2 separate regions of the Homo sapiens genome follow, and region 1 is reported to be linked to region 2. The links are microRNA targets in miRTarBase. Many come from high-throughput screens and were not tested one by one. Region 2 holds a microRNA gene; the other region holds the end of a gene's coding sequence.
Evidence for each region. Region 2 holds the annotated microRNA hsa-miR-4786-5p (UGAGACCAGGACUGGAUGCACC, at 1,544-1,565, opposite strand). A microRNA usually pairs through its seed, bases 2 to 8, with sites in the 3' UTR of a target mRNA and lowers its output. Matches are read on the target gene's strand: a 7mer-m8 pairs with bases 2 to 8, a 7mer-A1 pairs with bases 2 to 7 and ends in A, and an 8mer does both.

Region 1: the mRNA of PLEKHG2 is a reported target of hsa-miR-4786-5p. Seed matches in the 3' UTR shown: 7mer-m8 at 2,580-2,586.

The regions. Positions count from the first base shown.
Region 1 is chr19:39,424,663-39,428,717 of GRCh38, forward strand. It overlaps PLEKHG2 (pleckstrin homology and RhoGEF domain containing G2), which reads left to right. Exons shown (of 19, transcript NM_022835.3): 19 at 1-3,753. The coding sequence ends at 632. Among named protein-coding and RNA genes, the nearest start is that of RPS16, 9.3 kb to the right of the region's middle. RefSeq lists an enhancer at 3,391-4,036 and a silencer at 3,807-4,055.
Region 2 is chr2:239,941,520-239,945,587 of GRCh38, forward strand. MIR4786 (microRNA 4786) reads right to left here and starts at 1,575; the gene lies at 1,496-1,575. It also overlaps a transcript of NDUFA10 not described here. RefSeq lists enhancers at 3,266-4,068, 3,771-3,820, 3,951-4,060.

The DNA.
Region 1 (4,055 bases), not on the chromosome of region 2:
CTGCACCTCCACTTCCGGAGCCAAGCCTTACAGATACACAGGTCCAAAAACTCACACCTTCGTTGGAGCAGAAGAGCCTCATAGATGCCCATGTTCCAGCTGCCACACCTTTACCTGAGAGAGGAGGCTCTCTAGACATTCAGGGCCTCTCACCCACCCCAGTTCAGACCACCATGGTTTTGTCCAAACCAGGAGGCTCCTTAGCCTCTCACGTTGCCAGGTTGGAGTCTTCAGACTTGACGCCACCTCATAGTCCCCCACCTTCCAGCCGTCAGCTCCTGGGCCCCAATGCAGCTGCCCTCTCCAGATACCTGGCAGCCTCATATATCAGCCAGAGCCTGGCTCGGCGGCAGGGGCCTGGGGGAGGGGCCCCCGCAGCCTCCCGGGGCTCCTGGTCCTCTGCTCCCACGTCACGGGCATCTTCGCCGCCCCCCCAGCCCCAGCCACCACCTCCCCCAGCCAGGCGGCTCAGCTATGCCACGACGGTTAACATCCACGTGGGCGGGGGTGGGCGGCTGCGGCCAGCCAAGGCCCAGGTCCGGTTGAACCACCCTGCTCTCTTGGCCTCCACACAGGAATCTATGGGCCTTCACAGGGCCCAGGGGGCTCCTGATGCCCCCTTCCACATGTGAGCCAGGACATGAGGCTTCCCTGAAGCAAGGATTTCAGCCAGATGCCATAGACCCTCAGAACTTGACCTGGAAGTCCAGACACTGAACGCAGGCCTCAAAACTGCTGCGGCCTTCCAACTCCTGGTATCTGCATCGGCGAATGGCCCTTCTTGCCTTGATCCACAGGGATGGGGAAGGGAGGAATGTCATTAATGTTTTGTTAATACTGATTCTTTCATGCAATGATGTGTATTTTCCCATTCTGGAGGCTGTGGGAGATGACAAGACAATGAATGGGAAGGTCTGACACAGAACAAATCAGCGGTTCTGAAAGCTTGGGGAATCTCAGACTCCTTTGAGAATTATTGGAAAATGGACCCACTATAACTTGGCGTGTGTGTGAACTGCTTGATGCCCATCCAGGAAAGCCAAGTTAAGAAGCTTTGCTTCAAGTAGACACTAGAAATCCATTCCCTTGGCAATTTATACAGTTCACGTCTCCCACCATCCGTTCATCTCACCCACCCTGCCATCTCTCCACCTATCCATCTGGCTATTGCTCCATCTAGCTTTCCCGCTCCATCTACCCATCTTCCAATCCATCATCTCACGTATCTGCCTTGCTTATCCAACTGTCTGCCTTATTCACCCACCCATCCCTTTATCATTCTAACCCCATCTGGCATTCCATCCCTCCATTTATCCATCTTCCCACTTACCCATCTTCTCCATCCAGCACTCCGTTCATCAGTCCGTCTCTCCCTCCATATTTCCATCTGTCCATTCATCCACTCATTTTGCCATCCATACATATTCACCCAGCCATCTCCCAATCCATCGACATACCCCATCCCTCCCTCACTGGACTCTCCGGGGTCTTAGTACTATGATACTTCAGAGACAATTCCATGCTGATACGGGGGAGATCAATTTTGGGGCTCTGGGATAAGTCTGTCCCACATCTGTCTGATTTCCCTTGGCATCCTTCCCGTCAGTTCCTCTTGAATATCCCAGTTCTTGTACCCACTCACATACCTCAGATCCCTTCACTCCTCCCCGCAGTTTGCAGCCTCTACAATTCATCCACATGCTCCCTCCCCCAGCAAAATAATTCAGGTCGTGGAGACAAAAGGCTTTTATGTTAGGTTCTGTCTGCCCCCTTGTTCCAGCAGTGGTATGCCCAGTGAGAGGCACAATTTAAACGGTTTCTTTGGTGATGATATTAGCTACTTTCATCAAATACTTAGCCTCTTGTGCTTTAGCACATTATTTATGTAAGCTCCCCTAGGATTCTCTGAAGCACCCTGGTGTCCTGGCTGTGAATTCAAGTCCCATCTTTACTTATTTGGTGTGGGTCCTCCCTCTGAGCCGGTTTTCTCATCTACAAAATGAAGACAACAGTACTTCCCTCCTGGGATCATTGAAAGATTTAGGGAGCATATCCTTCCACTTCCCAAACATATTTGAACCTCTGACTTGCTTAGGAGCATCATTCAAATCACAGATCCCCCAGTATCTAGTCCCAACCTATTGAATCAGGATCCCCAGGGAAGGAGGAGCTTGGGAATCTGATTTTTTTTTTTTTTTTTAGATAAAGTCTCACTCTGTCACCCAGGCTTGAGTGCAGTGGCAAAATCTTGGCTCATTGCAACCTCCACCTCCTGGGTTCAAGCAATTCTCATGCCTCAGCTTCCCGACATAGCTGGGATTATAGGCGTGCACCACCATGCCCAGCTAATTTTTCGTTGTTGTTGTTGTTGTTTTGTTTTTGAGACAGAGTCTCGCTCTGTTGCCCAGGCTGGAGTACAGTGGCACGATCTTGGCTCACTGCAAGCTCCGCTTCCCGGGTTCACGCCATTCTCCTGCCTCAGCCTCCCGAGTAGCTGGGACCACAGGTGCCCGCCACCACGCCCGGCTAATTTTTTTGGTATTTTTAGTAGAGACGGGGTTTTACCATGTTAGCCAGGATGGTCTCGATCTCCTGACCTCGTGATCCTCCCGCCTCGGCCTCCCAAAGTGCTGGCATTACAGGCGTGAGCCATCATTCCTGGCTGGGAATCCGAATTTTTTTTTTTTTTTAGACGGAGTTTCGCTCTTGTTGCCCAGGCTGGAGTTCAATAGCATGATCTCGGCTCACTGCAACCTCTGCCTCCCAGGTTCAAGTGATTCTCCTGCCTCTAGCTGGGATTGCAGGCGCCCACGACCACGCCCAGCTAATTTTTGTATTTTGTAGTAGAGACGGGATTTCGCCATATTGGCCAGGCCATAGTGGTCTTGGACTCCTGACCTCAGGTGATCCGCCCACCTCGGCCTCCCAAAGTGTTGGGTTTACAGGCGTGAGCTACCATACCCTGCCCAGGAATCTGAATTTTTAGCAATCAGTTAGCAGCAAATAAGCTGAGATTTCCTGGGTACTAAGCACATACTATGAGCATTACAGCCGCTTTATATAAGCTCGTTCACTGTCCTCATTACATTCCTAATATGCAAGTGAGCATGTTTTTTAATCCTCAGTCTAGAGGTGAGGAAACTGAGGCAGGCACAGAGAGGCTAAGGGATTTGCCTAGTCGCACAGCTAGGAAGGTGCAGCACTGAGACTCGAATCCACACAGCTTGGCTTAAGTCTACCATTAAATTTGCCTGTCCTGGCCAGGTGCGGTGGCTCACGCCTGTAATCCCAACACTTCGTGAGGCCAAGGCAGGTGGATCACTTGAAGTGAGGAGTTCGAGACCACACCAGCCTGGCCAACATGGTGAAATCCCGTCTTTACTAAAAATACAAAAAATTAGCTGGGCGTGGTGGTGGGTGCCGGTAATCCTAGCTACTCAGGAGGCTGAGGCAGGAGAATCACTTGAACCTGGGAGGTGGAGGTTGCAGTGAACCGAGATTGCGCCACTAGACTCCAGCCTGGGAGACGAGCAAAACTGTCTCAAAAAAATAAAATGAAATACATAAATAAATGTGCCTATCCTGTGCCGGGTGCTGTTCTTGCCAGTGGGGATACATGAGAGAACACTGCCTTGCCCGCATGAGGCTTGTGGCCTGGTACTGTGCACACCTCAGGGGATTCTGATAATTAGCTGAGCACAGTTGCCAGCACAGGGCCTGGCTCAATAAATATTAGCTGCTGGCTTCTGCTCACTTACTGTTTATTGACTGGCTACTGTACACCAGGGCCGAGGCTGTGTCCCGGGGGCCCCGTGGTGACGGAGGTGAACTCCTCAGCCTGGAGTGATCCACTCCACTGGAGCCTCCCCAAGGTCAGGACCGCAGCCGACGCTCCCCTCCTCCGCCCCAGCTGCACATTCCCGGCTGAAGGAAAGTTCTCAGCCTGGCCCAGGCTCCCAGCGGCGTCGGAATTCCCGGTATTCGAGGAGGCAGGGAGGGAGAAGGGGCCTGTCTACTCCAAGGCCTGGAGCTGGGAAGGAGAGGCAAGCCCCTTT
Region 2 (4,068 bases):
GTTGGAGACCAGACTGGCCAATATGGTAAAACTCCATCTCTACTAAAAATACAAAAATTAGCTGGGCATGATGGCGCACGTTTGTAATCCCAGCTTCTCAGGAGGCTGAGGTGGGAAAATGATTGAACCTGAGAGGCGGAGCTTGCAGGGAGCCAAGATCGCACCACTGCACTCCAGCCTGGGCAACAGAGTAAGACTCTGTCTCAAAAAAAAAAAAAGAAAAAAAGGTTCAAGGAAGAAAGGAAAAAAAATTCCAAATTCCTCTCTTCAGAAAAACCATCTACATCAGTGAACAACATCCTGATATTTTTATGCCTGTATATCAACAGAAACACAGGTATGCTTTCATGAAATGGGATCTATCAATGCTATTTTAAATTACATTTAATTTATTTTAATATCAGTTTTCAACATAAGCAAATGAAAGTAAAACTAGTGAATTTTCTGCACCAAAACAGTATGGACCTTAGATTTTAAAATCCTCTGAAATGAGAAAAACAAATGGATTCTGCATATTGAAAGATCACACCATGTGTGCACAAACTATTTCACTTGGAATCACTTTGGTCTGAACACCAGTGATTCTTTTGCCGGACTGCCTTTGTCCACCTTCCTATAAATTAGTTTTACATATACAAAGTTCACAACAGTTTTCATCCCTCTACCACGTTTACCTTTACTTACTGTGGCTGTCTTCAGCCTTTCCTCTAGGGCAGCGGTGTTCACGCGGTAGTGTGCGCTGCAATCACCTTGCTAAACACAGATGCTGCTGGGGCCCACCCACCAGGGCGCCTGAGCCAGCAGGCCTGGGTGCAGCCTAGACACCTGCATTTCCGACAAGCTCCCAGGTGGAGGCTGGGGCCGCTGGTCCAGGAGCCACACTTGGAGAACGATGGATTTCTGTCAATAGCAATTTCAGCCTTGCTATGTCGTTTGTTGCTGTTTGAAATGTATTGGTTTGGTTCTGACACTGTTTCGGTTCTGTTTGCTTCCTGAGGTCTGACATCTTATTTTCATTTCTTAGTCTTATACGTTGTTGACATTTATTTTATTGAATTCATGTTCTTATCAAACTGTTCTCTTAGGCAAAGCACAGGAATATTTTTTTTTTCTGTTCACGAGCTGTGCGTCCTCTGCCTTCCGCATGTTTATCTTGCGCATGCTGTGGTCCCTTCTCCAGCACTGAGTCACGGGTTTCTCTGTGGGACGTTTGCCTGTCACTTGCCCTCCCCTTCCCTGCCTTTCCATTCTCTTCAAGCCCGAGCAGCTCTGACTGGGTCCTCATATGTTTTAACACAGCACTGGAGGGGTTTTAACTCTTTCCACAAAACCTGGCAAAGGCTCGTCTTCCCCTCTTAGCCACAGGAAGCCCAGGCAGTTTGTGTTCAGGCCACCTTCGGGAAGCCTGCAAGGATGGTGGTGGCAGGAGGAGCTCAGCCGAAGTGGAAGAAGGTTCGTTCAAATGCTGAGGCTCTGCTCCTGCTTCTGGAATCCTGTGAAATGGCCCAGACCAGAGCTGGCTTCACCTCATCACAGGGAGAGTGGTGCATCCAGTCCTGGTCTCAGGCCATGCCCACAGGCCAACGCATCCCTGGAGCCTCCACTTCTTACGGAGAGTTTCAACTCACAGTTATCTTCCCATGTCTGCCAGAGGCATTGCAAGACTCCCTGTCTCCAGATCCCAAGCACAGAGGCGGCCTGGGGCTCCGCTTGTGTACCAGTGGGACTCAGGCTTGGTGGCAGGTCAGAGCCACACGAATCTGCCTTCTGCTCTACTCTGAAATCTTTTGCTTATTTTATTGGCTACTAATTTTTCTTTCTTTTTTTTTGAGATGGGGTCTCACAGTGCCACACAGGCTGGATGGAGTGCAGTGGCGCAATCAGAGCTCACTGCAGCCCCAATTTCCTGGGCTCAAGTGATCCTCCCGCCTCAGCCTCCCAAAGTGTTGGGATTACAGGCGTGAGCCACTACACCTGGTCTTTGGCTACAAATTTTCAAAGTGTATGGCCTTGTTTGTTTTCTGCTGGGATTATTTTTCTAGTTTTTCCTTTCTATTCTGTTAGGGACTGGGGGCAGGACACTGTGATTCCGCTTAATCCTGCTGTCTTTGACATTTTTTTAATGTCCATGAGCAGGGACAAATCTTAGTCTCATAAGAATGTGCCTGATTTGGGAAGCAGGCCTCACTCAGCACCGACCGCCCCTCCTGGCACAGCACTGGCATCCCCTGGTGTTCCATAAACACAGAGACTGAGAGATGAGCAGACGAGTATGGGCCCTGGATGCTCCCTGCAGCCCCTCTGCAGAGCTGGACCTGCAGTCCAAGACTCCTTGGGGATGAGGGGTCTAGGGTTTAGTCCCTGTCCCTGGACAGTGATGGAGCTAAAGGCATGGGGCAGCGTCTGTCCCTTTTATGGGGGGAAGCTGAGGCTGCTGGGGGCAGTGCCTGTCCCGAGATGTCCCCAGACTCAGGTGCTCTGCTCCTTCCTTCCCATAAATCCTGGGCCTCCCCTGTGTCCTAAGGGCCTGCGGCCACCTGGCTAGTCCTGTTGCTGGTCCTCCTCCAGGTGCAGGGCACCGGTGCCCGCAAAATGAGCCACCCTGCCCCTGACCACTGCAGCCAGGCCCCTGAGAGGAGGCACATGACTCAGCCCACCCCCTCCTGGCATTGTTATCCTCCTGCCAAGATCCTGAGGCCATGCCAGAAAGGACCTGGGGCCAGCCTAGACCTTTCCATCATTTCACGTAGGCAGCAGCCTTGCCAAAGTCCCCGGGGGCAGAGCGGCTGTTTGGGTCTGGCGTCTGCTCCAGCCTGGCGTCCCCCATGCTGAGTGTGGCCCCAGGGCCAGCGCCGCAGGCTGAGATCCCAAGGCTGCATCTCTGGCTCGGACCTCTGGTCACGGCTCAGGCTGGGTGCCTGGCTGGCCACCTCCCCTCACAGTGCTGTCAGACTCTCAGTGAGCTCATGGCGGGAAATGATTACCTTTCCATGTGAATTCAGGCCGGGTCTGGACAAGTGAGGAGGTGCACTTTCCTCCACATCTGTTTGAAAGTGATTTTCTTCATGGAACTGGCAGCGCGGATCAAGAAAAATGACTCAGAACCGACAAAAACTCCAGGTCTTCCAAGGAAACAAAATCAAACACCAGTGTGCCTAATGGAAGCCTCTGGCAGCCTGGAGAGTGCAGCTCGACAGCCCCTGGTGGTCCCAGGGCCTCTGCTCGCTCGTTAGCCAGGGTTTCCAGCTCAAGGAGCAAGCTCTGTCCACGCCCAGAGCCACCTGCCCCTGTCCCCAGAGCCTTGGGGCCATAGTAACTTTGGAGGAAACTGGTCCCCAAAGCTCGGCCAACCCGCCACCATCCGCAATAGAAGGCAAAGGCTGCAGGACCACCCTAGGTGGGGGGCACACTGGCCCTCCCAGGCTGCACCCCGCGCCCAGAGCTCATCTCCAGACACAGCCATGGGGGTGACTTCCCAGGGGGCCTGTGGAGGCTGCTTCTTTATTGCAAGGTGCCTCCCCGAGACAGAATTCCATGGTTTTGGTAGCAGACTCCCAGGCAAGCCTCCCTGCCTCTCCTCTCTCTATCCTCTACAGAAACCCAGGCACGTGTACAGCCATCAGAGCCCCGGCACCCCTCCCGCAGGAGGGCCTGACTGGGGAGGAAATGACAAGCCACTTCTCAGGTCACCGGCAGGCGTTGAGCAGGCCGCTCTGCAGACGCTGGGCTCCTTCATTTGCACAACCGCAGCGGCAGCGCCATCATTCCTCCTGCTTTGCAGCCAGGAAGACACGAGCTCACAGATCAGCAATTTGCCCAAAGTCACGCTGCTGCTGAGTGGAGACAGGAAATCAGAGCCTCCTTGCTACCCAGACCAAGCTCCTCACCTCTGAGCGTCGCTCCAGCTCCTTTCAAAGACGCTGGGAGGCCCCTCGGGGGAAGAGCGGACACCCCAACCGGAACGCAGGCTGCACCGCGAGGCTCCCTGCGCCCCACCGAGCCGGTCAGGGCTGCAGTCTACCCCGTATGGCCAGGCTGGGAGGATCCTGGGGGCTGAGGCTCCCTCCA